4 linked regions of the Homo sapiens genome follow. The protein of the gene in region 2 binds, or shares a complex with, the protein of the main gene of each other region. Each region holds a gene or a part of one and is shown on either strand. Other genes may lie near its edges. The genes, in order: NOG, BMP2, BMPR1A and RGMB. A codon is read from its position in the direction of its gene.

Region 1 (6,980 bases), on a different chromosome or scaffold from region 2:
AAACCATGGCCCTTAGTCTTCCTTAGGTCCCCGGGGAGAGGGGAGGCCAGTGTCAAATCTCCCTGATATCCCCAGCACCTCCGGCCGAGGGCCTGGGATTTCGGGGCTCGGACCTGCAAGATCCCGGAGGCTGTGAGCCTTGTTGATTCCAAGGGATTGCCTCAGTTCGTACCACCGTAGCTTCCGGGCATGCAAAGGGTTAACATGGGCTGGATATTGAGGTGGGGGGTACGAGGCGGGAGGGGTGGCGGGATCTGGGTGGGCGCGCTCTGATCTCCCCCCCTCCCCATTCCTCGGGGGTCAAGTTTCAGCGGCACTCCGCCCCCAGGGTAGGTGTGAAAGACACGTGTCCCCATTGTGAAGGGCCTGTCAGGCAGGACAAAGCGGCCGCCCACCCTCCCCCCGCCCCTCGGCCCAGCCTGGGGTCAGCTCCAGGGGGCCGGCTGGGTGTCGAGGTCACTACAGGCCCGAGCTTTGGTGACATAGGGGGAAAAGCTAGGAGACTAGGCGGAGGCCACGTGATGTTTTAGTGAGGGGTTAGAGAATATCGCCCCCCCCCCCAACGCCCTCAAAAAACTAAGTCACCTCCATCATACCACAGGAGGGGAGTCCGAGGGGATGAGCCCCTTCCCCAACGGGGTAGGAGGCACAGCAGCATCCCCTACCCGCCCCCTCCCACGCCCTCCCACCCCCATCAATCACCAACACAGAAAATCAGTGTGGAGCGCAGTCGGTTTTAGTGGTTTTCTTTAATCCTGCTCTGCACTTCTTTCTCATTTACTACACGGGATATTATAAAGAATAAATAGCAGATACTCTTAATTTACAATGATTAGTCATTCCATTTGTTCTCTATATTTACAATAACTGTAAAATAACATTGAACTCTATAGCTTCTTCGAGGTCCAAGGAAAACCAAAACACTTTCCGAAGAATGGAAAATAGCTTTTAAAAAGTCCTCTACAAAAGTTCCCCCGTCTCTTTGTACTTCAAGAAAAAAATAACTTTTCCCCCCTGCTTCGCCATGCGAAGGGCACTGGAATATAAATAGCAGGTTAACATTATTAGCAACAACCAGAATAAGTCTCTCTTTTCTCTGTTCTTTTTTTTTTCTTTTGCTTACTTTTTTTTAAAAATACAGTAGAAGCCGGTAACTTTTAACGTATAATACTGACCTTTTAATAAGTAAATTAAAACTGGGACCGTATATACACACACATATACATTCCTACACAGTTAAACAGTGCATTACAGGAACCAGAAAGCTAGGTCTCTGTAGCCCAGAAAAAAAAAAAAAAAAAAAAAAAAAAGTTCATTGAAAACCCTCGCTAGAGGGTGGTGGAACTGGTTGGAGGCGGTGCAGGGGGCGTCGGTGGGGATCGATCAAGTGTCCGGGTGCGGGCAGGGGGCCCCCGAGTTCTAGCACGAGCACTTGCACTCGGAAATGATGGGGTACTGGATGGGAATCCAGCCGCAGCGCTGGCCCCCGCGCCGCTGACAGCGCCACCGCAGCACCGTGAGGTGCACGGACTTGGACGGCTTGCACACCATGCCCTCGGGCACGGAGCACGAGCGCTTACTGAAGCAGCTGCCCACCTTCACGTAGCGCGGCCAAAAGCGGCTGCCCAGGTCGTTCCACGCGTACAGCACGGGGCAGAATGTCTGCGACCACAGCCACATCTGTAACTTCCTCCGCAGCTTCTTGCTTAGGCGCTGCTTCTTGCCCTGGGCCAAGCCCTCGGAGAACTCTAGCCCTTTGATCTCGCTCGGCATGGCCCCCGACGGCCGCTGCCGCAGCAGCTGGTCCAGCTCCGCCAGGTCCTCCGCGCCCCCAGCTGCACCCCCGCCCCCGCCGGGCCGGTCCTCGGGGGGCGAGGTGGCCATGAAGCCTGGGTCGTAGTGGCCCCCGAGCAGCGAGCGCAGCAGCGTCTCGTTCAGATCCTTTTCCTTGGGGTCAAAGATAGGGTCTGGGTGTTCGATGAGGTCCACCAGGGGCAGGTTGTCGCTGGGTGCCGGGCGGATGTGGAGATAGTGCTGGCCGCCGGCCGGTGTCGCCCGCAGCCCCAGGACCACCACCAGGGCGTAGAGGGTGACCCCTAGGCTGGGGCAGCGCTCCATGCCTCTGGCGCGCGCCCGGGGCTGCTGCTTCGTCCCGCGTCCCCGGAGGAGAGCACGCCGAGCCCGCGGCGCCGCCGCGCTCCCCCGTCTCTCCGGAGGCGGCTCACCCGAGGCTGGGCAGGCGCAGGGCCGGCAGCATGAGCCGCCGGGAGAGCCCTTCGCGCAGCGCCGGCTCCCACCGGGGCGGAAGAAAGGCACACAAGTTGGCCGCAACTCCTCTCCCGGGTCTACTGGGGAAGGCGGCCGCGGCTGGGCATCCGAAATTACTCCAGGGCGACCGCGGGGCGCGGGAGGCGCCGGCTCCTCGCTGCCTTCCCGGGCCGGCGGCGGCGCAGGGCGCGTGGACGAGCCGCTCTCCCCTCCTCCTCTCGCTGCTCTTCGTCCGGCCGCTCTGTGCAAGCGCCGCTGGCTGAGCTGGTTCTAGGGGCACTTCCCTCCGCCTGCTCCGGGCTCCGCGGCCGGCTCTGCCCGGCGGACTCCAGCGGCGGCGGCGGCGGCGGCGTCCGCGCACGTTGGCACCGGTTTGTCTGTCTCGCAGGGTCCAAGCCTTTAAATTTCCTGCACTTTCAGCTCCATCACCATGGAAACCACTGACTCTCTCGGCGTTGCCCCCTCCCCCTTCTTCCCCCCAAACAACAACCCCACCCCCCACTTCTCCACCCCCGAGGAGCTGGAGCTGCACAGGCTCCGGGGGAAGCCGCCTGTACTCGCCGCGGAGGCGGCGGCGGCGGCTTCGGCAGCGCCCAGGGCTGTGCCCCGCCGGACCCAGATGCCCCGGGAAGCCGACAGTCCGGCTGCCCGCCGGAGCTCACAGGCGGCGGCGGCGGCGGCGGCAGCGGCGGTGGCGGCGGCGGTGGCGCTTGGCAGGTCTCCGCGCAATTTTCTCTCTCCCCCACCACCCACCCCCCTTCTCCTCCTCCTGCAAAATGCACCGCCCCCCTCCTTTCTCCTGGAGCAATGCAACTGGGGCTCTAGGCGCCCCGCCAGGGCCAGTCCTGGGGAAAGCTCGCGGCGGCGCTGGAGCCGGGCTGGAGGGTGCAGAGCCGGTGTTTGGGGAGGGGGGGCGGTGCTTGAGGTGGGGCTGGAGGGTTTCTCACTAGCTGGGTGCTTTGCACTGGGAGGGGAGCAGCGGGGAAGTGCTGGGGGCTCGTTTCTCGGTGCATGCAGTTCGGAGCAAGAAATTTCTCCATGTGCATGGAGCGTTTTCCCCGAGCGCGTCTTCTTCTCTCCCGGGCTCTTGCTCTAAGTCCCCTCCCCCCAACACACATATATACACACACACACACACACACACACACAGCCCCTACCCCACCCCCCTTTGCACCAGGGAGTCCGAGAGCCGCAGCGTTGCGCAGCGTGATGTAATTCTTAGGAAGCACTCCTGTCTGTCTGCCCCTCGGGCCCACGAGGGGGTTCCGCTCCTCACCATCCTCCTCCTCCTTGGCCGGGTCCTGCACCCTGAGTGGCCTAGCCTCAGGGGCGCGACTGGCTCGCCTGCGGCTCCCCTAGCCCGCCCGGCTCCGCGCGGCCGCCGCTCGGCTCCCTGGGGGCGGCGCGCCCTCTGCTGGCCCGCTATGAGCCCTGCACCTGGCGCTGGCGGGGGCGGCCGTGCGAGGTGGGTCGGCCGCTGCCCGCTCTGCCCAGTTCAGCTTCTGCTTCTGTGTCCCTGTCACTTTGTGTGTGTCTGCGTCTGCTGACTGGTCCGTTTTGGTTCTGGCTATTTTCCCGAAGGTCTCCAGGCCCCCAGTGTAAACAAACTTCCTGAGATTCCTTCTCGGTCCCCTCAAATTTCACAAGAATGCGTGCAGCACCTTCTGCCTCAGGTAAATCGGTCTCTGGTCTCAGTGGGTGCGAGTGGGGACCAGAAACTTGAAAGGTGAGCTGACAGCAGAGGCACCTGAGTCTTGCCCGGGGTCCACCCTGATATAACTCGGACAAGTCATTTTTCTCACTTTTCGCATTAGTGACGTAACTATTAATAGATTTCTCTTCCAGCCCTACCTTTCTGTGATTTTAAATAAACCTCCACGATGCTTTCTCTTGTTCAGAAGCAGTTTCTCTTTGATGGGAGATGGGTACTGAAGGGACACCTCCGGTTAATTTCCCCTTGGACGAGGAACTCAATCTCAGCTTTAAAATGCAAACTCAGTTTTCTTTGTGGTGAATGTGATTGGAATCTGGAAAAAGCTGGAGAAGAGAGACTTGGAGTGGATGACTCAAGTATTTGCCAGTCTTCCATGGAGTGGGAGTTAAGAGGTCCCATTGTGACAACCTAAATCGCTTAACTTTCTTTCCCCAAAGATCTGGTTTTTCCTTTCAACCTGCCCCACCCCAACTCCCAAAGTTTATCATCTGTCTAAGGAAGAAAACACTTTGTTGCATACTACAGTCTTTCTGCAAAACCTCTATTAAAAGGGGTGGGCAGTTTCCGCTGAAAGCGTTTCCCTCAATTTTAAAGTCTAGACAACTAGAATTAGACTATCAAGGGACTGCTCAAAAGGAGATCTTGCTTTGATGGATACTGGAGTTAACAACAACCCATTGGTTGTTTGAATTGGGCTGACTTTGAAATAATGTGTGATTAGAACCTGGTACAGGCCGGGCACGGTGGCTCATGCCTGTAATACCAGCACTTTGGGAGGCTGAGGCAGGCGGATCACTTGAGGTCAGGAGTTGGAAACCAGCCTGCCCAACATGCTGAAACCCTGTCTCTACTAAAAATACAAAAAAAAAAAAAAAAAAAAAAAATTAGCTGGGCGTGGTGGCAGGCTCCTGTAATCCCAAGTACTTGGGAGGCCGAGGCACGAGAATCACTTGAACCTGGGAGGCAAAGGTTGCAGTGAGTTGAGATTGCACCACTGTACTCCAGCCTGAATAACAGAGTGAGACTCTGTTCCCACCTCCCCAACTCCTCCCCCTCCAAAAAAAGAACCTAGCACATAGTAGGCTCCTAAGCATACCTCTTTCTTTTTTATGTGCTTTATGGGGATTCAGCACTAGTTTGTTTCCTTATGAAGATTACATGTTCCAGAGCAATTTTGTCACTGATGTGAATTAACTAAGAAAATTATTTAGTGGAGTTCAAGGGCTAAACTCTAGCTCAGCCCTCCTGAGATGGTAGGTTCCAATTAATGACATTATATCATGCTGGTTTCTGTTCTTTTAATCCCCCTCTTCTCTCCTTCAAATCACCTATTTTTGCTTGAAAACCAACCCAGATCCTTTATTTAGTTGGGCTGAGCAGATTTGACTGAACAGCAAAAAAGGTCCCTCAGGAACCAGAAACAAATCATGCTTGAGAACAGATTGGGTGACCTGTTTATGGAGTATCTACTGGGTGAAGACCATCAGGAAAAATACAAAGAAGAAAAAATTCATAGTCAGTCTCCATCCTGCAAGACTTTTGTAGTACAGTTAGGGGAGATATGACAACCACAAGAAGAAATAGTAAAAGGACATCAGAAAAATTTATAAATTCCCATAACAGTGTGGACTAGTTTTTTATAACCTTTTCTTTTTAAAATCCATGTCCCCTTTTGATAGATATAACAATATCATGCTCTTCTTTGAATGTTGTTTAAAGTTTTTAAAATACATTATTATAACCAAAAAGAAGCCCAAGCAATTATGTTAGCTATACTGTTTTCAAACCATATCTACCCCTCTTCAATGTGAAGTTCTGAAATGCCACATTTGGGAAGCTTGCAACTCCTAACTCTGTGCCACACTGGAGTAGCCCATGCGCTTAGGTACTGAGTGAACCTGGGGATGTTGGTATCAGAGACTAGGAAGTACTAAGACCTTAATGGTAGAGCTGAATTTTAGCTGAGCTTCATGAAGAAGGATGTATTTATCTGAGTATGGAGAGGAAGAGATTTGAGAGATAGGATATACATCTACATGAAGAAGGGAACCACACTTGTATGAGGGACAGCCAGAAAATCTGGGGATATGAGAGGTGGAAGAGGAAATGTCCCAGACAGGGAAGCACCACGACTTTTGGACCAGGTGGATTTAAGTTGGAATTCTGGCTGTGCCCCTCACCGGCTGTGTTACCTTTTTAAAACAGTCATCTTAACCACCCCGTTTCCATTCTCTCATCTGTAAGATGGGGATGATACACACCTCTCAGAATCATGCCACGTAAAAGAGGTAAGGAATGCCTAGCCTAGTAAGGTGCCTGGGGCAGAGCCTATATCGGGCAATGGTTTTACAACACGTTACTTCTTCAGAGAACCCCACTGCCCTCAACTGGCCAACCATCTCAGGTTTGAGCAGAAGAGGGTTGAAGGGGTGAGGATGCTGCTGAAATCAACTCCAACACCTTTGGACTTGCTTTCTGTCCACTCCATCTGTGCAACTTGAGGGCTGCCAGGCTTCAGGAGTTTGAGGGAGGGAGGACTGTAGTTTCTTAGGAGATTCTGTAGTCAACCCATTTTGATGCTTCTGTGGTTCTGTTGAAGAGGGAGCTTGACAAAACTGGACAAAGAGGGTTGTATTTCTTGCAAAGGAAGCTGTGGGCGGAAGATGGGCCAATGGAAGTACGGCTATCAGCTTGACTCTCGCTGTGGGCGGTGCTTGGACTGTAGTGGGGCTTGGTTGGGGACTTAGGCCTCAGGAGGCTACATAGGAAGAGTTAATGAACAACATAAATGGAGGCCTGTCCCTGGGTAGCCCCATCCCAGGTTTCTGTCCCTGCAAAATTCTCTGGGCAAGGTAAATGGAAGCACTCCTTTAAACAGTCGCTGGGGCAACTCCAGGTCAAAGGCAAGAGGAGCCTGAGGGTGCTTTTATGTATCTTCTCTTATTTCTATCATGATTCGAAGAACAACTTGACAATCTTCTTGCTTCTTTGGCCCTGG
Region 2 (8,254 bases):
ATTGAGAGACCATAAGCATAGTGGGGAAAAAAGCCCCAAACTCCCAAAACATGAGTCTAGTGTAAGCTATGCCATTTGCTAGCCATGTGGCTTTGGAAAAATGACTTAACCTTTCCAAGCACAGTTTCTTCACCTGTAAAATAAGGGTAGTGACATTCACTGAGCAAGGTTTTTGTTCCACATTTCAGAAGTGAGTTGCTCTTCATTAAACCTGAAGCAATTGTTTCTCAACTCCCTTAAAGTTCTTATCTCATATGCCATATATTTTATATGTATTTACCCGTAAACATGTTGCATTTCTTCCATTGAATTCTAAGTAAATTATGTGCAGAGATTATGTACTTTTGTATTAACTGGAGCCCAATAACATAGTGCCGTGGGCTTTGTAGTTGCTCAATAAATATTTGTAGACTGTATGTAAAAGGAAATACTATAGTTGACTCTTCACAGTCTATTTAACAGAAAGTCAAAACATTTTAATATCATTGACAAGGTATGCAAATGTATTAGTATATGATAATTAAATAATATGTAGTGGATATTTAAAACAATCGTACTTGGCCAATTTGGCCTGGCTTAGGCTTTGCATATAAATTACCCCACTCCACTCATCCTTCCTATTATGTCTAATCAAATGCAAAATAGGTAAACATTTGAATGACTAAATGCTGCTCTTTTGCTGTGGCTCCCGGGGTTCCCATGAAAGAATTTCATGGAGGTAAAGTAATCAGAACCGGTATTGGGTGTTGCACTAGTAACAAAGTGTTACTCATGCTAAAAAGCCAACAGGCTTCTCAGGGGAGTCTTATTTTGAAGACTATAATCATTTTCCAGAAGCATGTGCTCATTCAACCCATATTTTTGAAATCTACCAAGTGCAAAAGAAAATCACATAAGATAAACTCACATCTTTCGAGAACCAGAACCGATGGCCTTAATTTGCATGTATATAGTAATACAAATTTGCAACCTTTTGTTGTCTTCACACATATCTTCTCATTTATTCTTCACAACCTCCATGAGAAGTCAACTGTTAGTCTCTATAGAGTATTCATGAGGGAGCCGAGGCTATGAGAATTTGTTACTGCCATAGATCAGAGGTCCCCAACCCCCGGGCCATGAATAGTACTTGTCCATGGCCTGTTAGGAACCCCCAGGGGCAGGTGAGGGAGCATTACTGCCTGAGCTCTGCCTCCTGTCAGATCAGCAGCAGCATTAGATTCTCATAGGAGCTCAAACCCTACTGTGAACTGCATGTATGAGGGATCTAGGTTGCATGCTCCTTATGAGAACCTAACTAATGCCTGACGATCTGACGTGGAACCGTTTCATCCTGAAACCATCACCCCCAACCTGGTCTGTAGAAAAATTTTCCTCCACAAAACTGGTCCCTGGTGCCAAAATGGTTGGGGACCTCTGCTTTAGATTGACTGACCCAACTGGTGGCCTTTCTGATGAAATATCCACTGTTTGGCAATATAATAAAAGCTGGGAGAAGAGAAGGAGAAGGAGGAGAAAGAGGAGGAGAAGAAAGGCATCCAAAGTCCTATTTCTTAAAACCAGGCCATATTGCAGACAGAAGGCCAAAGAATACATTTGAAGATACATAGAGTGAGTAGCAATCAGAAACTAAGTTCACACATGTTATCCATTTGACCTTCATCATGTCAGTCTGAAGCAAGCAAACATATATTTATTTACCCCAATTAACAGATGAAATGACCATTTTAAAGTCAGTCATCCATGACAGAACCAGGAATTAGAACCCAGGTCACCCAACTACATCTTAGAGTGTTATCAACATAGTTTACAGACATAACTTAAGGTGTACATCTTAAACTGTGTGACAGTCTAATCAATGCACAAAATTCATTCTTTTTAATTTTTAAGAAGATGTAGTTGGTACTTGCTGAAAGCAGTGATCCTGATTTGGCCAACTTGGCCTAGTTTCTGATATAAATCACTCCACCTCTCCCATCCTTTCTACCATGTCTAATCAAACACCAAAAAGGAAAACATTTGATTGACTAAATGCTTCTCTTTTGCCTTGGCTCCAAGTTCCTGTAAAAAAAACTTCATCCAGGTAAAGTAAGTAGGGATGGTTATGGGTGTCACCCTTGTAACAAAGCGATATGTATGCTAAAAAGCAAAGAGGGTTTCTCAGGGCAGTTGCCACAGGTTTCCATGGAATGACAATTACAAGGTAGATGGATCACGTAATGCCTGCTGTGAACTTTACAATACATGGGGATCACTATTTTAATGTTGATTTGCATAATGTTTGGCCTAGCAAGAACAATACTGAATGCTAATAGCTACAGAATGCAATAAAATGGAATATCATGTGAGCTGAAGTGCTAAAATTGCTAAAGTATGACTGTAAGCAGTTAATTTCATCCCGAGTCTTGTCCACACACAATCAAATGCAAATTTCCACTATCTCCTGAGAAACTGCCAAGAGATGACTGAAATGGAATAGCAACAACCTCCTTTATGTGGAATCATTATCTGGTCATCTTTGCTTTTTTACATAACTTGTCTGTACCCTCTGATGCATTTGAATTTGCAACTTCTACTATCCCTATCTTAAACAACTCCCCACTCCCACCTCTGCCCCTTCCACATTTGCTGGCAGATGCACTAAGTCTGATAAACTCAGCAAGACTGAATCTCACCCTCTGAACTGAAAAACTTTGAATGGACCTTTGAAAACGGTAGAATTGACAATGGTTAGCTGCAAGTGATATTTTCAAGGCAAACAGACACTCTCCCAAAGTATTAAATAACCCAGCATTCTAAGTTGCAGGTGGAAGGTAGCCATTAGTGAAGAGAGAGAAAAAAAAAAGAAATAGCTCGTCTGTATTTAGATTTATCATTTCTGACTATTGCTCTTCCCTGGAAAACGGGTAGGTACAGTCATCCTGTACTTCGATCCCAAATCAGTCTCTGGAGACTACTTATTTATTTATTTATTTATTTATGGACTTCTTTCTTTCAAGCGTTCGAACTCATTTCCACCACAAGAGGGCAGCCATCTCTAAAAAAAAAAAAATAGGGCCAAAATTTATGTAAGTTGTGCTTGGAACAAGCATTCAGTAGTTCCTCAGAAATCATACACCCTACATAAAAGAGATTCTGCAATGGGCAGCACTAACATGAAACAGTGTTCAGAAGTACCCATTTTCCCTCAGATTCTAAACTGACAAGGTTTCCACTTACCAGGTTATGAAGTTCTAAAGCTGCAAGACATCCTTGAGGTCATCACAGGATATTTATTTATTTTTTCTTCGGGTGCATCCAATAGTTATCAACTTTTCCTCCTCTTTAAAAGCTACTTAAATCTCATTGAAGTTTTGTTTTGTTTTGTTTTTGAAATCTAAGTAATGAGAGAAACAATTGTTAACTTCTCAATTAAACTTGATAGGAAAGGAAATAATTTCAGAAGCCCTGTGTCCATGAGTAGGATATGTTTTATTGCCTCCTTGTTTGCGGTGCAATGACTCTGAGTGACAATCAACTTCTATAGCACCTTTTTTTTTTTTTTCAGGAAATAAAGTAGCATGTTCCTGAATAATTCCCCCACCCCCTTTTATTTTCCTGGTAGTCAGGCTTCCTCCAAAATACCTTATTTGACCTTTATACCTTTAGAAACAGCAAGTGCCTAATTCGCCTCTGTGGGTTGCTAATCCGATTTACGTGAGCGGAACCTAGTATTATTTTAGCTCCCCTACCGAAAAAATAATACACATGGATAATAGTTCTATTACCAGCTCCTGCTTCTGACTTTTTTCTCTCTGTTTCGCAGGCCCGATAGCTCTGGGAAAGCAGAACTTGGCCTTTTCCAAAAATTTTCTGCCCTTGGTTTTGGGGATCATTTGGGCAAGCCCGAGGTGCTGTGCATGGGGGCTCCTGGAATCCTGGGAAGGGCAGAAAGCCTTGGCCCCAGACTCATCGTGCAGCAGCTCTGAGCAGTATTTCGGCTGAGGAGTGACTTCAGTGAATATTCAGCTGAGGAGTGACTTGGCCACGTGTCACAGCCCTACTTCTTGGGGGCCTGGTGGAAGAGGGTGGCGTAGAAGGTTCCAAGGTCCCAAACTGGAATTGTCCTGTATGCTTGGTTCACACAGTGCGTTATTTTACCTTCCTCTGAGCTGCTAATCGCCTGCCTCTGAGCTGGGTGAGATAAATATCACAAGGCACAAAGTGATTGTACAATAAAAAAATCAAATCCCTCCCATCCATCCTTCAGTCTGCCACACACGCAGTCTACGTTACACACATGTCACGTAAAGCAGGATGACATCCATGTCACATACATAGACATATTAACCGAAATGTGGCCCTTCGGTTGCATATATTCTCATACATGAATATATTTATAGAAATATATGCACATATTTTTGTATATTGGATATATTTATGTAACTATAAATTTACATGCGTATGGATATGAAAATAAATGCATACACATTTATGTAAAAAAATTTGTACACATGCATTTACATATGTAAATACATACATCTCTATGTATTAATGTTTAAAAACACTCAATTTCCAGCCTGCTGTTTTCTTTTAATTTTCCTCCTATTCCGGGGAAACAGAAGCGTGGATCCCACGTCTATGCTATGCCAAAATACGCTGTAATTGAGGTGTTTTGTTTTGTTTTGTTTTTTGAAATCGTATATTACCGAAAAACTTCAAACTGAAAGTTGAATAACGGGCCCAGCGGGGAAATAAGAGGCCAGACCCTGACCCTGCATTTGTCCTGGATTTCGCCTCCAGAGTCCCCGCGAGGGTCCGGCGCGCCAGCTGATCTCTCCTTTGAGAGCAGGGAGTGGAGGCGCGAGCGCCCCCCTTGGCGGCCGCGCGCCCCCGCCCTCCGCCCCACCCCGCCGCGGCTGCCCGGGCGCGCCGTCCACACCCCTGCGCGCAGCTCCCGCCCGCTCGGGGATCCCCGGCGAGCCGCGCCGCGAAGGGGGAGGTGTTCGGCCGCGGCCGGGAGGGAGCCGGCAGGCGGCGTCCCCTTTAAAAGCCGCGAGCGCCGCGCCACGGCGCCGCCGCCGCCGTCGCCGCCGCCGGAGTCCTCGCCCCGCCGCGCTGCGCCCGGCTCGCGCTGCGCTAGTCGCTCCGCTTCCCACACCCCGCCGGGGACTGGCAGCCGCCGCCGCACATCTGCCGCCACAGCCTCCGCCGGCTACCCGAACGTTCTCGGGGCCAGCGCCGAGTGGATCACCGGGGACCGCGAGGCACCCGCGCGCCGCAGACCCCGCGCGGGCTGGAGCACCCGGCAGAGCGCGCCACAGCGCCGTGGCCTCTGCTGCCCGGGCTGCGCCAGAGCCGCGGACGGGCGCGCAGAGCGCCGGGGACTCCGGAGCCGATCCCTAGCGCCGCGATGCGGAGCACCTACTGCAGGAGATCGGGGGCCTGGGACGCGCTGGCCGAGGTGTGATCGGACCCCAGGCTAGCCACAAAGGGCACTTGGCCCCAGGGCTAGGAGAGCGAGGGGAGAGCACAGCCACCCGCCTCGGCGGCCCGGGACTCGGCTCGACTCGCCGGAGAATGCGCCCGAGGACGACGGGGCGCCAGAGCCGCGGTGCTTTCAACTGGCGAGCGCGAATGGGGGTGCACTGGAGTAAGGCAGAGTGATGCGGGGGGGCAACTCGCCTGGCACCGAGATCGCCGCCGTGCCCTTCCCTGGACCCGGCGTCGCCCAGGATGGCTGCCCCGAGCCATGGGCCGCGGCGGAGCTAGCGCGGAGCGCCCGACCCTCGACCCCCGAGTCCCGGAGCCGGCCCCGCGCGGGGCCACGCGTCCCTCGGGCGCTGGTTCCTAAGGAGGACGACAGCACCAGCTTCTCCTTTCTCCCTTCCCTTCCCTGCCCCGCACTCCTCCCCCTGCTCGCTGTTGTTGTGTGTCAGCACTTGGCTGGGGACTTCTTGAACTTGCAGGGAGAATAACTTGCGCACCCCACTTTGCGCCGGTGCCTTTGCCCCAGCGGAGCCTGCTTCGCCATCTCCGAGCCCCACCGCCCCTCCACTCCTCGGCCTTGCCCGACACTGAGACGCTGTTCCCAGCGTGAAAAGAGAGACTGCGCGGCCGGCACCCGGGAGAAGGAGGAGGCAAAGAAAAGGAACGGACATTCGGTCCTTGCGCCAGGTCCTTTGACCAGAGTTTTTCCATGTGGACGCTCTTTCAATGGACGTGTCCCCGCGTGCTTCTTAGACGGACTGCGGTCTCCTAAAGGTAGAGGACGCGGGCCAGGGCCCGGGGTGGGTGGTGGGTGGGAGGGGGATTTGGGCAGCCACTGCGGTAGAGCCCTTCCTTACGTCCAGGCCAGAAGTAAACAGACCCCTCTCCAGTCCACGTGCAACGGAGCCCTGCAGGGGCTCCCACTTCCAGCTGCCCCGGGCGACCGTAAGCCTCACCCTCCCGGCCCGCACTCTTCCACCCCTCTTTCTTCCCCTCTCCCTGGAATACTTTTGGAGCTGTTAACACTTAGATGAGGTGTTTTATTTATTTATTTATTTATTTTTAATTTTTTTAAAAACTTTTTTGGGTCAAAGAAATCCCTTTGAGAGGGTAGCCCCTGGGTTTCACCCGTTAGCTGAGAACCTGTCCGCTCTGCCATGGTGATCTCCATTCTTCAAGTGTTTCCGGGAGACTTGGTTTCTTTGCTCAGAGCCGTGTCCCATTTAGGAAAGTACTAGGAGTTTGGGGTTCTCCCTACTTGTTTCCAGAAATGCGAGGGGTCAGTACTGAAGGATCACTTGGTACTGTGTTTTTAACAGCTGACACGTGCATTAATAGATATTCACCATTTACGTAATCCCGGGAAGATACATGTGTATCTTGACTGCACTGTGGGGATGCGGGATGGAGCTGCCTTTCGAGACACCCCTGAGGGTAGGGGCCTGGGACACAAGTCATAAGTGGCTTCAGAAGTTGTGGCCTTGAGCTTACAGGGTCTGGAAGCTATAAGGGTGTGTGTGTGTGTGTGTGTGTGTGTGTGTGTGTGTCAGGAAGTTCTATACAGTGCCTCTAAGGAAGTCACATGCACCATTTATGTGTGTTTATATGCCAGACAGCGCTCAGCACTCCGCATTTGGGTTTGTATAGGGGACGCAGGGTGTCAGATCAAGCGGTGGTTTTCCCAGGTTCCCGGCATTGGCTGTCAGCGCTGTGTCACACACAAAAAAGTGACAGTCATTGGCGCTGGTTTGGTTGGGGGGGAGGGCAAATCCCAAATCTGATGTCAGACGAGCTAAGCGTTGGATGGGAGCGATAAATCATCTGGTTCAGGAACTTGGGACCCTTCATTATCCCAAACGTTTGAGCTTCGGTCGGTCTTACCTAGACTCGTGAGTGTGCCAAGCCAGGAGGGCATCCTGGAGGAGGCACGCCAGCCAAATGGGAGACCGGGCCGCGGGGGCGCGAGGGGGGAGGACTGGGCGGGGAACTCGGGTGACTCACGTCGGTCCTGTCCGCAGGTCGACCATGGTGGCCGGGACCCGCTGTCTTCTAGCGTTGCTGCTTCCCCAGGTCCTCCTGGGCGGCGCGGCTGGCCTCGTTCCGGAGCTGGGCCGCAGGAAGTTCGCGGCGGCGTCGTCGGGCCGCCCCTCATCCCAGCCCTCTGACGAGGTCCTGAGCGAGTTCGAGTTGCGGCTGCTCAGCATGTTCGGCCTGAAACAGAGACCCACCCCCAGCAGGGACGCCGTGGTGCCCCCCTACATGCTAGACCTGTATCGCAGGCACTCAGGTCAGCCGGGCTCACCCGCCCCAGACCACCGGTTGGAGAGGGCAGCCAGCCGAGCCAACACTGTGCGCAGCTTCCACCATGAAGGTGAGGCATGGAGCAGGGCGTGGGGGCGGGGAGTCACCCTGCAAAGCCCTCCACCGTGGGCAGACTGCAGCCGTCCCTGTAGAGGCAGCTTGGCCGGGGCACCAGCGGACGTTTCCACTCTTGCTTCTGTACTATCGTTTCTGAATCTGATTTTAACTCACTGCTTGTGTGGTGGGGGAGCCAGGGATTCCCCTTTAGTAACTCCGCACCCTCTTCCTGGCTTGCAGCCAGAAGAGCTACTCCTCCTGGAAGAATTGGAGAGAAATCAAGTGATGGGGAAGATGAGGGCAAAAGGCATGCCTCTAGTCAGCTAAACGTGCAAGAATTCCACAGAGGGAAAAGGAGAAAAAGGGAGGCAGATTGAGATTTCTTTAAGTCTGTTTGGAAGCTTTTGCTCTATAAATCTGCCGCTTA
Region 3 (7,296 bases), on a different chromosome or scaffold from region 2:
ACATGTGGCTAGTGGCTACCATATGGGACAGCACAGTTGTAGACATGCCACCTTTTCCCTAGTTCTTGCTTCCTTGTACTTGACTTTCCTTCTGCTGATGTCTTCCTGGTTTCTATTTAATTAATGATGCAGACTGTTGTTGCAGAATTCATTAGGCTACCATTGCTGATTATCTCATATGTATAGTGCATCAGTAGCCCATTGGTCTCACCAACCGTTTGCCATCTGAGTTCTGTTGTAGACATTCTATCTTAAGGTTGCGGCAGAGGGCATTTATTTGCTGTAGAAAAAGGAAGCCAATAAATTATTGGGAAAATATGAAAAATTACTTAGCCAGGAATAAAAATCTAGTAAAATCATTGATGCCAAAAATTGCTGTTGATGACAAGGACCTGTAAATGTGCCTGTGTATGGTCATGTGTCTCTTGTAACTGTTTGTCTCTTTGTATGTATATGTTTTCATTTTTTCCTGAGATGTTATACTTAAACATGTAAGCTATTAAATATTTTGTGTGTGTTTGTTTTGAAATATAACCTATACCCCCAGTCCACCCCAGGGCTCGTAGTTTATTCTTTGTAAATACACGGGACTTGTGGGTGGCGAGAGATTGACATGTTCAGAACTGACAGAAGGCCATGTGCCAAGTAAAGTGATGATGGTGAGGCCTGCAGGACCCAGATCCTGTTGGGCCCTGGGAGCACACAGTGGAGGTTGGATTTTATTCTGAGTGCATTGTGGAGCCATTGATTGGTTTTATATAGGAGTGACAGATTTGTGTTTATAAAATGTCTCTGGCTGCTCTGTGGAAAATGGATTGCAGGGACCAAGAGCAGAAGCAGAGGGAACAGTTGGAGACTTCTTACCTTAGTAGAGGCATGATGTGATGGGCCTTGGTGACAACAGCGGAGTTGGAGAAAAATGAAAACAATTGACATACATTTTGGAGGTTGAGCCAAAAGACTTTGGTAAGACCAGGTTTGAGGCAAATCAAGAGTTCATTTAAGACAAGTCAGTCAGGAGATGTCTAAGCAGGTCATGGCTAGAGGGGGTACATCCAGGAACCATCAACAGAGTGGGCGCTGTCCCCTAGGGAGAGCACAGAGAGGCTCTTTCCTGTTACTTTTCTTTGTATTCAATATCTGCTTGGTGAAATCTTGCAAGTTTTTAAGATGTAGCTTAGATTTCATTACTTTTGACACCTAAGATCAGTTTGAGTTTGACACCTAGGATGAGCCTTTTCCTTTGTTTACATGTAAACACCTCCGTATTTTGTCACTTTTTTTTTTTTTTTTTTTTGAGATGGATTTTCGCTCTTGTCGCCCAGGCTGAAGTGCAATGGCTTGATCTCTGTTCACTGCAACCTCCACCTCCCAGGTCAAGTGATTGTCCTGCCTCAGCCACCTGAATACTGGGATTACAGGCGCCTTGCCACCACGCCCAGCTAATTTTTTAATATTTTTAGTAGAGACGGGGTTTCACCATGTTGACCAGGCTGGTCTTGAACTCCTGACCTCAGGTGATGTGCCCACTTTGGCCTCCCAAAGTGCTGGGATTACAGGCGTGAGCCACCGCGCCTGGCCTTTGTATTTTGTCACTTTTCACATTGTATTTATTTGCTTTTGTGCTTATTCCCCCTCTGCTTTCCACCAAGTTTCTCAAGGCCACATATGTGGTTTTGATGCCACATCTTTGCGTTTCTAGCATTTAATACCTTGCCTGCACATAATAGACCCCTACTAAGTATTCTGTTGAATATTTGGCAATAACATAAGCTCCAGATACAACTACTGTAATTGAGTTTTTTGTCTCATGAATTCAAATAGTATTCTAGGAAGTTTCATATAACTTTGAGTTTTTTCATGTATCAGTGATCTTTTAGTGTTCTGATCTTTGTTATTAGTAACATCTTCATTTGTATACTATTTTACATGTAGTTAAGCACTTTAGTAAATATTCATTTGATCTACCTATAACCTCTTGATTTGAATTAGGCAGGAATTATTATCCCCATTTTCTATAGATAGCTGAGGTTCAGAGAGTAACTTATCTGTGCCCGTAACTGCGACTTGAACCCTTCACTTCTTGCTGTTATCTCAAGTGATATTTCTGCCACACTAAACTGCTTTTTCTGTGTCACTAGATTTTTGAAAAATCAGTTGCTGTGATATATTATATACTGTTTGTTTTCCAGAGCTGAATTGATACGTGTCTTCTGTTAATGTAATAGGATTTTAAAGCTGGTCAGGTTCCCTCACCTGTCCTCTAGTCCTGTAGCCTTATAGAGTAAATGAAGCCTGGAAAGGTGACATGGCTTGCCCAAGACCATCCAGCTAGGTAAAGCGGGGTAGGCCCATGGCAAAACAGAATCCCAGTCTCCTCATTTCCTGCTCAGTGGATTTCTTCCCTTCCTGTACCTCCTGCTTCCCCCACCCCATCTTTTACAGTTGATGTTTCTAACATAAAGGAGGTCTTTCCGCTTTGTAGCAATCAGATCCAACGGAAGCCTTGACATTATATTACGGAATTTATTTCTGAAAGGAGAGTGGTGTGGGGGGCGCGGGGATGAGTAATATATGTATGTACACAAACTTCCAGCTTTTTTTTTTTTTTTTTAAGTGTTTTCTCTCCTGGCCGGGCACGGTGGCTCATGCCTGTAATCCCAGCACTTTGGGAGACTGAGGCAAGTGGATCACTTGAGGTCAGGAGTTTGAGACCAGCCTGGCCAACATGGTGAAACCCTGTCTCTACCAACAAAATACAAAAAAATTAGCTAGGCGTTGTGTGGGGTGCCTGTAATCCCAGCTACTCGGGAGTCTGAGGCAGGAGAATTGCTTGAACCTGGGAGGCGGAGGTTGCAGTGAGTCGAGATTGCACCAGTGCACTCCAGCTTGGGTGACAGAGTGAGACTCTATCTCAAATAAAAATGTTCTCTATACTCATTCAGTAGCAAATTCTTTTACTAAATATTCGGTATAAGAAAGTGAAGGTTATTGGCCAGGCATAGTGGCTCACGGCTATATTCCCAGCACTTCGGGAGGCTGAGGCGGGAGGATCGCTTGAGCCCAGGAGTTCAAGACCAACCTGAGCAGTATAGGGAGACCTTGTCCCTACAAAGAATTTAAAAATTAGCCGGGCATGGTGGCATGTGCCCTTGGTCCCAGCTACTCCAGAGGCTGAGGTGGGAGGATCACTTGAGCCTGGGAGGTTGAGGCTGCAGTGAGCTCTGATCACATCACTGTACTCCAGCCTGGGCAATAGCGTGAGACCATGTCTCAAAAAAAAAAAAAAAAAAAGTGAAAATTATTGAAACTGAAGGCATGTAATCATCAAAACACTATTTAGCAGCACTTTTTCTGTTACCTGTGTGTGCATATGTGATATTTTTTGTCTTTTCAGTAGTTTATCTCATCAGTATGGTAAATGTAAAATCAAGTCTGTGTTGTGTCTTGAACCACTTATTTAACATTCATAATGAAATACATATACACTTGTCTGTTTGGTTCCACCTTTCATTCCCTTGAGAGTAACCCACAAAGAATGGCCTAGCTGAGTCAGAGAGAGGAAGTAATTACTAGAACAGTTTTTTTAGTTCCGTTCTGCTTCCAGCCTGAAAGATTTAGTACCAAATATGACAGTATCTGTCACTGCAGGCTGCTAGACTCTAGTGTAAGAACATAGTTCTATTTCTGTGAGCTAACTGCTGCCCTTCTATAACCTTCAGTTTCTGCCAGCATCGTCTGCATTCAAACCAATGACCTCGAGGTGAAAATCTCCAGATAACATGATTGGTCCCCATGCTCTCATGATTTCCTTACTTAAGCAATTAAAGGCCAAAGCAAGATGCTTAGTAACTCCTTTTCCACATAGAGGCACAAATAAAGGAAAGCTGGTCACAAGTTTTGAACCAAAGAGTTAAAAGAAGAATCATAACTTGTCTCTATTTAATGATTGGAAACTCTCACAGACTTCTGTGAAGTCTCTCCCCCTTTTGTACCTTTCTTACAAGTGATGACTATATACTTTTACCTGGCAGGGGAGAGACCACGGTCACGAAGGTGGTTTTCCCAGGGCGAGGCTTATTCATTGCACTCCAGATGTGCTGACCCCTGCGATTTCCCCAAATGTGGGAAACTCAACTGCATAATTGTGGTGGTGGGGGACTGCGTTCATGCTTTTCCCTGGTTAAATTAAAAAATTTTTAAGTTATTTTAAAAATATAAAAAACAAGATTTGACTGTATTCTGCCTTGCGCCACTCTTGTTTGTCTTTCACTAGTGCAAAAATTGTGATATAGCTGTCTTCATGTACCCCGCAATACCTGGTGCAGTAATTCTGTGCATAATAATGTATGTCTGTTTGTTGTATGAATGAAATTTATATTTCTAAAGAAACATGCTAGCTACAATTATTGTGATAAGAAAGCTTAACAACTTTTTCTCATTGAAAATTGTCACGAAACAATGAGCTTTTCAGAAATGATTTACTTACAAATTCCATATTTGAATGCAGGACAGAATCTGGATAGTATGCTTCATGGCACTGGGATGAAATCAGACTCCGACCAGAAAAAGTCAGAAAATGGAGTAACCTTAGCACCAGAGGATACCTTGCCTTTTTTAAAGTGCTATTGCTCAGGGCACTGTCCAGATGATGCTATTAATAACACATGCATGTAAGTATTTTATGCAGCCCTTCTTAAGAGTTAGGAGAATAGAGTTGCATTTAGTGCTATTTTAAGAATTATTAAACTTGTCTGCGGTTTTTTTTTCATTCATATATAGTATCTTTCCAGAAAGCCAAAAAGCCTTTTGTTTTGTATATTAGAACATTATTCCATTAAATGATTGATAGGTGAGTTACTATATTAGAATTATGTTATAATGCAGCTTTTAAAATAAGATCAAAGGGATCTAGTATTTAACATCTGAGTTTTTAATGATCTTTTAATCTTAAATTTATTGATGCTCATTTTAGAAAACTTAGAGGTTACCAAAAAAGAAATCAGAAAACTCACTGACAACCTCCTACTTCTTTTTAATTTAAAAAAAAATTTTTTTTTTAACTATAGACAGGATCTTGCTATGTTGCCCAGGCTGGTCTCAAACTCCTGGGCTCAAGCAGTCCTTCCACCTCAGCCTCCCAAAGTGCTGGGATTACTAGGGTGAGCTGCCACACCTGGCCTCCTACTTCTTAATTAGTTGAAATATTTTGCAGATATATATAAATCATATTGTGTTAATTAATTTTATGCTTTTTTCTTACCTGTGAATTTACCAATCCAAATCTGATTTATAAAATGATTTTAATTTTTCTAGTGTATTTCGTGTTAGCTGCACAACATGTTTATATATGATCATGTAATTCTAGTCCATATTTGTTGGAAACATTGACATATTGACTTAATAAGACCAAAAAAAATTGCCTGAACAACTCAACCTCATCAGTCAATTAATTGTCTCCTTGTTATAGAGGCAATAATGAATGTCATGTTTTATACTTTTAATAATTGTATGTTCCCTGAATGGACCAGATAGAAAGCATGAAACTTTACACGTAAACTCTTGAACCTGCATGACGGTCATCGTGTCTTAGGTTTGCTGCTTGTCCCCTGGTGGTGGTGGGCTCTGCGTGGCTGACTGTGACTAGTTGTTCATTTTTACCTTGGTGAGAGTTTGCCAGCAGGGAACTGCTCTCTGCTATGTCACCAAATAATGTTTTGCTAAACTTCTTGTCTGTAGTACCTGCCTGATGTAATGGGCTGTCTGTTAGTAGCTTAGTAACCCAGAGTAAAACTGAATCATCCATTTTAACAGAATTCTGCCCCACACTTAACATTTTCTCCTAACAGAAAACCAAGAATTCTGCAAAATTCTTCTAAGTAGAAGCAGCACAATTCCTGATATTAACAATAAATAGGAGTACAGAAAAAGCTTTTAGAAATTTCTCCCATACCTGTTAAAGTCTATATGAATATATTAAGGGGAAACTCCAGGATGCTAACACTAAAATAAGAATTTCATTATATATGTATGTAAATTTATTGAAAATTTATTCAAAAGTCCTCTCCCTGTTTTCCCATCATATTCAGTAAAAGGTGCCTTTTAGTCCCCTTTTTTTTGGTCATTAAGCCTATTTGTATGTTTCAGAGAAAAGTTTGTTTTTATCTATTATCATATACAATATGGAAGTACTGAAAAAATGGGTAAAAAGAGACAAAGTTATTTTAAAGTATGTTTTCAAAACATGACATAAAATTTTATAAATCAGCTTTCTGTGATCACATGACTGATTAGCAAAGAGAAGTCACATAACTCCTATGTGGAGGACTTGTTTAATTGAAATCCTTTTCTTCTTGACAAAGGGTTGTCACTGGCCTTTTAGATCTTGGCTCAGACATAACTTTCATTTGTCTTAAAACCTCTGGCGTTGCCAATAAATCACGTGTGAATGCAATTCTAAGTCACAAAACAAAGTATTAAAGGCCATCTGTACCTGTTCACATTCAGACTCAAATTTCGTTAGTACTTTCTATGTGAATTTATGTTTTGTTTTGTTTTGTTTTTTTCTGTTTTAGAACTAATGGACATTGCTTTGCCATCATAGAAGAAGATGACCAGGGAGAAACCACATTAGCTTCAGGGTGTATGAAATATGAAGGATCTGATTTTCAGTGCAAAGTAAGATATAATTTGGGACCCATGAGACAAAGAAGGGAGGGGCCATATGAAAGCATCGATTTCCCCCAGGAGAAACATGCCTGGTGTACACATCGCTGTATGTTCACATCAGTAAATATATTGGAGGAATACCTACTGTCTAGATTCTGTCCTGTATTCATATGTAGAATTTATAACTAAATCATTTCTGAAAAGCTAATTGTTTGATTACAATTTCCTTTTTTATTTCCATAGACAGCACCTGGCTCTGTTGCCCAGGCTGGAGTGCAGTGCTGCGATCTCCGCTCACTGCAACCTCAAGCCAGCCTCCTGCCTCAGCCTTCTGAATAGCTGAGACTACAGGTGCATGCCACTATACCTGGCTAATTTTTGTATTTTTTGTAGAGACAAGGTTTTACCATGTTGCCCAGGCTGGTCTCAAACTCCTGGGCTCAAGCAGTCTGCCCGCATCGGCCCGCAAAGTGCTGGGATTACAGGTGTGAGCCACTGTGCCCAGCCTGATTACAGTTTTCTTTGTTCTCTACTTGGGAGGCTGAGGCAGAAGAATTGCTTGAGCCGGGGAGGCCAAGGTTGCAGTTAGCCGAGATCGTTCCACGGTACTGCAGCCTGGGCCACAGA
Region 4 (6,628 bases), on a different chromosome or scaffold from region 2:
AAACAGCCGTGGTGAGACATATGGAACCATTCCACTCATCTCAATATGGACCCTTGCTTGCTTTTTGGAAACTTGTTTGGAATCGGTTATCTTTGCTTTGTTGGCCCAACACAAGTAAATCCTCTTTGTTTTTCCTAAGGTGAACAAAAAAGTAGTTCTTGCAGATAATATCAAGTTGGTTTAAATTTTAGGTTTGTTAGACTAGAAAGACGAATTATTTAGCCGTCATTGAAGAGTTTAATCTTTGAGTAGATGTTACAGGTGAAAATGAGCATAGTGATTATATAAAAAGTCTATTACTAACTCTTATTTTAGCCATCTGTATTGTTGACTTTCAACTTTTTCAGGTGCAAAATTTTCTTGAATCAATCTTTTCATCTCCAAGGGATCCCAGCATGCCTTAAAAAAAAACACTTGTCAACGGATTTTAGAGCCACCAAATAAATCTATTTTATGGTCCCGTTAGATATCTAGCTCAAAACCCCCATTCACTCTGAAAGGTCCTATGGTTGGATGCACAACAAATTTCCTGAAATCATCTCTGATGCACCTCCTTTGGGTTGTTAAGAAGGTGTTGAAATGTGAGAAGGCTGGTAGTGAAATCAAGTTGTGGCTCAGGGTAATTAGGAAGGGAGAAAACCCAGCATTTTCATAGTACATTGTCTGGCTTTTAGTTGCAGCTGCACACAGCGGATATGAATTTAACCGGTTGCTACAGTGCAGCTGGTTCAGATCTGGCTTTATAACTGGCTGAAGTAAAATGAAATGGCTGGAAAATTCCAGTCAAGTAACACCAGTGGGAACAAGTGGAATTAAATAGTGTGAGCAAATGCTGGCCGAGTTGGAGAAAAACTTAAGACATAAACTTGAGGGTGGTGGTGAGGACTTCGGGTGGGCAGGCGGGGGGAGGGGGGTGCATTTTCTGGTCTTTTTCACAAGGGTCTATTGTTTCGATTAGTTTCCTTGCAGGAGGTAGAAGGTTTCCTCCATCCCGAGTAATTCATAGAGTGTTTGGCTTGTCTACCTTCCTCCTGACTGAAGTCACCTGATACTTTTTGTTTTTTCAAGAAGGAAGAGAGAACCCTGTTGCCTCAGTTACTAGCAATGATACAATTCTCAAAATCTGGTCTTTTTTTGTTTCTTTGAAATAGTTTCTCCATGTTGTGTGACACAGCAGCCCCTGTCTTATCATAGTTGTCTTCCCTCCACCACCTGTACCAGAGATGTTGGATATGTTGGAGGTGAAGGTGTGCAAGGTTTTTAACTAACTGTTCTAATTAAAGGATTCTGCAGGAAAGAACATGGGTTTACAAAAGAGAAGCTTTTGTATTATTAGTAATTTTTTTTCTTTGATGAATTTATGTGCTTAGTTTGGAGAATCGAGAGTTGGCTGGGAAAAGATTTCTGAGGAGTTAAGGGACTCTGGTGCTGTTTGGGAAAACATTTGCTGTAACTAGGTTTAGGGTATTCAGTCTCTGCCAGTGCTTAGGAGCTATATTTGCCAGGTGATTTCCCTGTCGCAGGGATTAGCCAGTGATGTGAAACATTTGATTAAGGGACTAATAGAAATCTTTCCTGGGGTACATGAGTGGTGGCTGTTACTGGGGTGCCCCCTCCTCAACTCTTTCTCTCTGTATTTCGAGTAAGTTTGTAGTGGTGAGTCATGGGATACAGTTTTTTAATCCTATGAAGAATCTTGGTAGGAAGCAAAGTTCTGTTAGGTATATTGTTAATTAAGCCCTTTAAAGTTTCTGCATAATAACTCAGAAACGAGCCTTTTTCTTTTCTCAGAACTATGCCATGACTCATCCACTTTGGAAGCAGACAAGATATAAATTATCAATAAAAATTGCCCATAATCTGGCCTGGCACAGTGGCTCATGCCTGTAATCCCAGCACTTTGGGAGATGATGGTGGGAGGATCGCTTGAGGCCAGGAGTTCAAGACCAGCCTGGGCAACGTAGTGAGGAACCCCCGACCTCCACCATCCCCCCCGCCCCCCACCAACCCCCTCACTTCAAAGTTTTTTAAATCAGCCACGCATGGTGGTATATGCCCTTAGTCCTGTGTACTCAGGAGGCTGAAGTGGGAAAGTCCTTTGAGCCCAGGAGTTGAACGTTGCAGTGAGCTATGAATGTGCCACCGCACTCTAGCCTGGGCAAGAGAGCTGACCCTGTCACTTAAAAAAAAAAAAAAAAAAAAACCGATATTCTGATAGCAACACTGCTCACTTGCTCACTCTTTCTCTTAGGAAAGTAAAAAAGTTTTGTCTTGATGCACAGATTTATTTAAACTTTAGTTCTAAATATATAGGACTTTAAAAAATATTTTCTGAAAGTGATATCCATTTTTGAGGTGCAAGCAGTTGGGTCCATTTTGGAGATTCCGCCTTAAGCCATTCAGCTTCAAAATGGCGGGGAGCTCTTGCTACAGAGGGTTACCCCGTTCTGCTTCCTTCCCATTCTGTTAAACCTTGTACATGCTCCTTCCCACAGATCACTATTATCTTCAAAGCCCACCATGAGTGTACAGATCAGAAAGTCTACCAAGCTGTGACAGATGACCTGCCGGCCGCCTTTGTGGATGGCACCACCAGTGGTGGGGACAGCGATGCCAAGAGCCTGCGTATCGTGGAAAGGGAGAGTGGCCACTATGTGGAGATGCACGCCCGCTATATAGGGACCACAGTGTTTGTGCGGCAGGTGGGTCGCTACCTGACCCTTGCCATCCGTATGCCTGAAGACCTGGCCATGTCCTACGAGGAGAGCCAGGACCTGCAGCTGTGCGTGAACGGCTGCCCCCTGAGTGAACGCATCGATGACGGGCAGGGCCAGGTGTCTGCCATCCTGGGACACAGCCTGCCTCGCACCTCCTTGGTGCAGGCCTGGCCTGGCTACACACTGGAGACTGCCAACACTCAATGCCATGAGAAGATGCCAGTGAAGGACATCTATTTCCAGTCCTGTGTCTTCGACCTGCTCACCACTGGTGATGCCAACTTTACTGCCGCAGCCCACAGTGCCTTGGAGGATGTGGAGGCCCTGCACCCAAGGAAGGAACGCTGGCACATTTTCCCCAGCAGTGGCAATGGGACTCCCCGTGGAGGCAGTGATTTGTCTGTCAGTCTAGGACTCACCTGCTTGATCCTTATCGTGTTTTTGTAGGGGTTGTCTTTTGTTTTGGTTTTTTATTTTTTGTCTATAACAAAATTTTAAAATATATATTGTCATAATATATTGAGTAAAAGAGTATATATGTATATACCATGTATATGACAGGATGTTTGTCCTGGGACACCCACCAGATTGTACATACTGTGTTTGGCTGTTTTCACATATGTTGGATGTAGTGTTCTTTGATTGTATCAATTTTGTTTTGCAGTTCTGTGAAATGTTTTATAATGTCCCTGCCCAGGGACCTGTTAGAAAGCACTTTATTTTTTATATATTAAATATTTATGTGTGTGCTTGGTTGATATGTATAGTACATATACACAGACATCCATATGCAGCGTTTCCTTTGAAGGTGACCAGTTGTTTGTAGCTATTCTTGGCTGTACCTTCCTGCCCTTTCCCATTGCTACTGATTTGCCACGGTGTGCAGCTTTTACTCGCCACCTTCCGGTGGAGCTGCCTCGTTCCTTTGAACTATGCCCTCACCCTTCTGCCCTCACTTGATTTGAAAGGGTCGTTAACTCTCCCTTACAGGTGCTTTGACTCTTAAACGCTGATCTTAAGAAGCTCTCTTCATCTAAGAGCTGTTACTTTTTCAGAAGGGGGGGTATTATTGGTATTCTGATTACTCTCAATTCTAATTGTTATATATTTGAGCCCATACAGTGTATTAGGTTGAACCATAGAAACTGCTATTCTCGTAGGTCAAAAGGGTCTAGTGATGGAAGTTTTGTAGATAAGTACCAGGCATCTCAGTAACTCCTAGACTTTTTCTCATCCCATGCCCCGTTTTAAATTGTCAGTTTTCCCTCTGACTCTTCTGTGTTAAAACATGAAACTATAAATTTAGTAATTATCATGCCTTGCTCTTTTTAATCTATATGACTGATGCAAGCCCCTCTTCTTAACCGTTTCTTGGCTTTGAGCCCAGAAACACAGCTCTCCCTGTCTCCAACTCCAGTAAGCCCTCCTCAGCCTCACCTTACGAATCCAAAGAACTGGGGTTTGTTAGGTTCTTTCTCTAATGTAGAGGCCCAGATCCCATCACAAAGTTTTTCATTCTTCCTTGTCCACCATGATCTTCATCACAGTCTTTGATATGTCTGCATGCAAAGTGGAACAGAGTTGGGCGGCAATGACAGAAGAGCTTCCTTGGCCTGACTCGGTGTGCGGCCACTTCGGCACTGCTTAATCCAGATATTCTTGTTAACTAAGCATTGTGCTTCCCAGGTGGTCTGAAGTCAGGTACTCTCTCTCTCAACACCTGTAGTTGAATATGATTTGGTCAGTTGCTCGTTGTAACTTGGAGAAATTCCTATAAAGTAAGATCTCCTTGCCTCTTCCATCCATTGTTGGCACCCCCTTGCAAAAGGAAAAGAACAGCAAAAGTCAGGAGCAGTAATCTGAGAAAGTTAACTCCAGGATAGGTAGGTTTCTATTGTTATAGCTAGATGTAAATCTTTAGTTCCAAGAAGTGATAGAGTTTCTGCTTTAATAATTTGTTGATAAGTTTACATAAACAGAAATAAAAGATACTATCTTTACCGTAGTAGTTCAGGCCAAGATTATGCTTAGTTTTAGTTCTCCAGGTAGTTACTTTTGCCATGTCCTATTGATCAGTGACACTGCCAGAGGCCCATACCGGCAAGAGGAAGAGGACGTCATTTTGTAAAGTTTAACTTCTTAGCGAACTGATGTGCCACCCAGTCACAGAGTGGAGTTGTGAATTCATGTAGAGGTGGCAAACCTCTACCTTGTGTTGATGAGAGAATAATCTTGGGCAGTCTGGGAAAATAAGGAAGGCATCTCCTTCTTACTCATGGAGATTCAACTATAGAGAGTTGAAACCTAAACCCGCCTTCCTTTTATAGAAGCTGGACTAGAGACGGACTGACCATCAGCTCTGAACTGTGGCTTTTTTTGTTCACCTATGATGCCATGTACCAAATTCAGAAGCTATCGTTAATAATTTGTTTTATAATTGAGTAGTACAAGCGAGGAAAAAATACGGAGGATAACCACTATTTTTGTGCAAATAATATGAAAGTGAAGTAAAAGCAATAGAAGAAATTTCTATAGGATCTGGGTTTAGAGTGTGTATCATTAATAAATATACCTTTGCTCTTTTCAGGGAAAATAACAACCACCCTTACTGATAGTTGGGAAAAGAAGATTGGGTTATTTTGCCATATCATTTAGCTGGAAGTGACATTTAAAAGCACCCTGCATCACTAGTAATAGTGTATTTTGCTATTCTGCCCTTGTAATCGGTGTCCCTGTAAAACAATCCCCACAGATTACTTTCAGAAATAGATGTATTTCTCTACGTAAGGGCCAGGTTTATTTTCTCCTTTTTTGAGATTTCTAGAAAAAATGCTGCTTGCACATGTTGGTTCTTGAAACCTTAGCTAGAAGAATTTCAGGTCATACCAACATGTGGATAGGCTATAGCTGTTCAGAGGTCTCCTGGGGGAGCTTAAAACGGGGGAAACACTGGTTTTCACAGATGCTCCACATGGCTGTCTTTAAAAGACTCAAAACTTTTTTTTGTCCTCTTTGTTATGCTTGGAAGCTCCCCCCCCCCCAACAGTGTGTCGAGTCTTTGCAAAGAAACCTTTAGATGTGGTTCATAGATATATGAATACGTATCTGTGTAAAACAGTGAGTGTGCAGTGTGTAAATACTTTAAATTATTATGCTAGAAAAATAAAGTTACATACCTTGCTGTGGAATGTCTGTTCTGTGATTATAGGGACACCTGCTGGAAGAACTGAGAGCTGCAGAAGAAAGGGAGTCGGGGGAGGGGGAATTGTATAAAATCCCTAAAGGTTACTGATAAGTCATGCCACCTGCCCACAAATTCGCTGATTTTCAAAACTATAGCATTACTGTCATTTTTTTTCTTTTGAAATTTTAAGCAGTTACAAATCCGTATCAGTGAGATTGGTCCACTAGTATTGTCCCAAAGTTCTGTCTTTAGTAACAGTTTTGGTCCCTTGAAGACATACAGCCTGCACTCTAGTTCTTTTTAAGGTGATGTGAACAGTAACGACTTCCTCCTGGTGGGGAGGATTTGGGAAGGCAGGATTTTCTGGCTTTGAAAACAAATCCTCACTTCTTGGGTTTTAAAAAGAGACATCAAGAGATCACAAGTTGGTCTTTGTTCAAGAAACACACCAAAGGGTAGAAAAGTTAGGAAAATAACTGAAACAAAAGGCACAGAGAAGCACTGTTACTTGTATTAGGTAGAATACTAAATGGATCAGATTCTGACTGGGATAAACATACATGTAATCATTTCTTCTTTTTTTTTTTTTTTCTTTTGGAGACAGGGTCTCACTCTGTCACCCAGGCCAGAGTGCAGTGGTGCAGTCTCAGCTCACTACAGCCTCAACTTCCAGGGTTCAAGTGATCCCCCCGAGTCGCTGGGGCTACAAGTGCATGCTACCATCCCC

The links.
Region 1: the proteins of BMP2 (region 2) and NOG are in contact, whole or in part, in a crystal structure (PDB 7AG0), measured with the Homo sapiens proteins. Residues at the interface, in NP_001191.1 of Homo sapiens: Trp310, Asp312, Trp313, Val315, Ala316, Pro317, Pro318, Gly319, Tyr320, Ala368, Ile369, Ser370, Met371, Leu372, Tyr373, Lys379, Val380, Val381, Leu382, Lys383, Asn384, Tyr385, Gln386, Met388; in NP_005441.1 of Homo sapiens: Ile33 (codon at 2,022), Arg34 (codon at 2,019), Pro35 (codon at 2,016), Ala36 (codon at 2,013), Pro37 (codon at 2,010), Ser38 (codon at 2,007), Asp39 (codon at 2,004), Asn40 (codon at 2,001), Pro42 (codon at 1,995), Leu43 (codon at 1,992), Val44 (codon at 1,989), Asp45 (codon at 1,986), Leu46 (codon at 1,983), Ile47 (codon at 1,980), His49 (codon at 1,974), His199 (codon at 1,524), Arg204 (codon at 1,509), Arg206 (codon at 1,503), Pro219 (codon at 1,464), Ile220 (codon at 1,461), Gln221 (codon at 1,458), Tyr222 (codon at 1,455), Pro223 (codon at 1,452).
Region 3: the proteins of BMP2 (region 2) and BMPR1A are in contact, whole or in part, in a crystal structure (PDB 2QJ9), measured with the Homo sapiens proteins. Residues at the interface, in NP_001191.1 of Homo sapiens: Lys297, Pro330, Phe331, Pro332, Leu333, Ala334, Asp335, His336, Ser339, Asn341, Ile344, Val345, Leu348, Asn350, Ser351, Val352, Asn353, Ser354; in NP_001393490.1 of Homo sapiens: His66, Cys67, Pro68, Asp69, Ile77, Thr78, Asn79, Phe83, Ile85, Cys100, Met101, Lys102, Glu104, Gly105, Phe108, Gln109, Asp112, Arg120, Ile122.
Region 4: the proteins of BMP2 (region 2) and RGMB are in contact, whole or in part, in a crystal structure (PDB 4UI2), measured with the Homo sapiens proteins. Residues at the interface, in NP_001191.1 of Homo sapiens: Val308, Gly309, Trp310, Trp313, Met371, Tyr373, Leu374, Asp375, Glu376, Tyr385, Met388; in NP_001353437.1 of Homo sapiens: Lys97, Arg100, Gly101, Leu103, His106, Ser107, Leu110.

Annotation. Positions count from the first base shown.
Region 1 is NC_000017.11:56,589,362-56,596,341, reverse strand, and holds NOG (noggin precursor), read right to left. Parts: upstream 2,644-6,980; 5' UTR 2,119-2,643; coding exon 1,420-2,118; 3' UTR 731-1,419; downstream 1-730. UniProt on the Homo sapiens protein: Inhibitor of bone morphogenetic proteins (BMP) signaling which is required for growth and patterning of the neural tube and somite. Essential for cartilage morphogenesis and joint formation.
Region 2 is NC_000020.11:6,762,633-6,770,886, forward strand, and holds the start of BMP2 (bone morphogenetic protein 2 preproprotein), read left to right. Parts: upstream 1-5,053; 5' UTR 5,054-6,243; intron 6,244-7,487; 5' UTR 7,488-7,494; coding exon 7,495-7,840; intron 7,841-8,254. UniProt on the Homo sapiens protein: Growth factor of the TGF-beta superfamily that plays essential roles in many developmental processes, including cardiogenesis, neurogenesis, and osteogenesis. Induces cartilage and bone formation.
Region 3 is NC_000010.11:86,885,552-86,892,847, forward strand, and holds part of BMPR1A (bone morphogenetic protein receptor type-1A isoform 3 precursor), read left to right. Parts: intron 1-4,510; coding exon 4,511-4,673; intron 4,674-6,575; coding exon 6,576-6,678; intron 6,679-7,296. UniProt on the Homo sapiens protein: On ligand binding, forms a receptor complex consisting of two type II and two type I transmembrane serine/threonine kinases.
Region 4 is NC_000005.10:98,790,590-98,797,217, forward strand, and holds the end of RGMB (repulsive guidance molecule B isoform 1 precursor), read left to right. Parts: intron 1-2,495; coding exon 2,496-3,164; 3' UTR 3,165-5,905; downstream 5,906-6,628. UniProt on the Homo sapiens protein: Member of the repulsive guidance molecule (RGM) family that contributes to the patterning of the developing nervous system. Acts as a bone morphogenetic protein (BMP) coreceptor that potentiates BMP signaling. Promotes neuronal adhesion.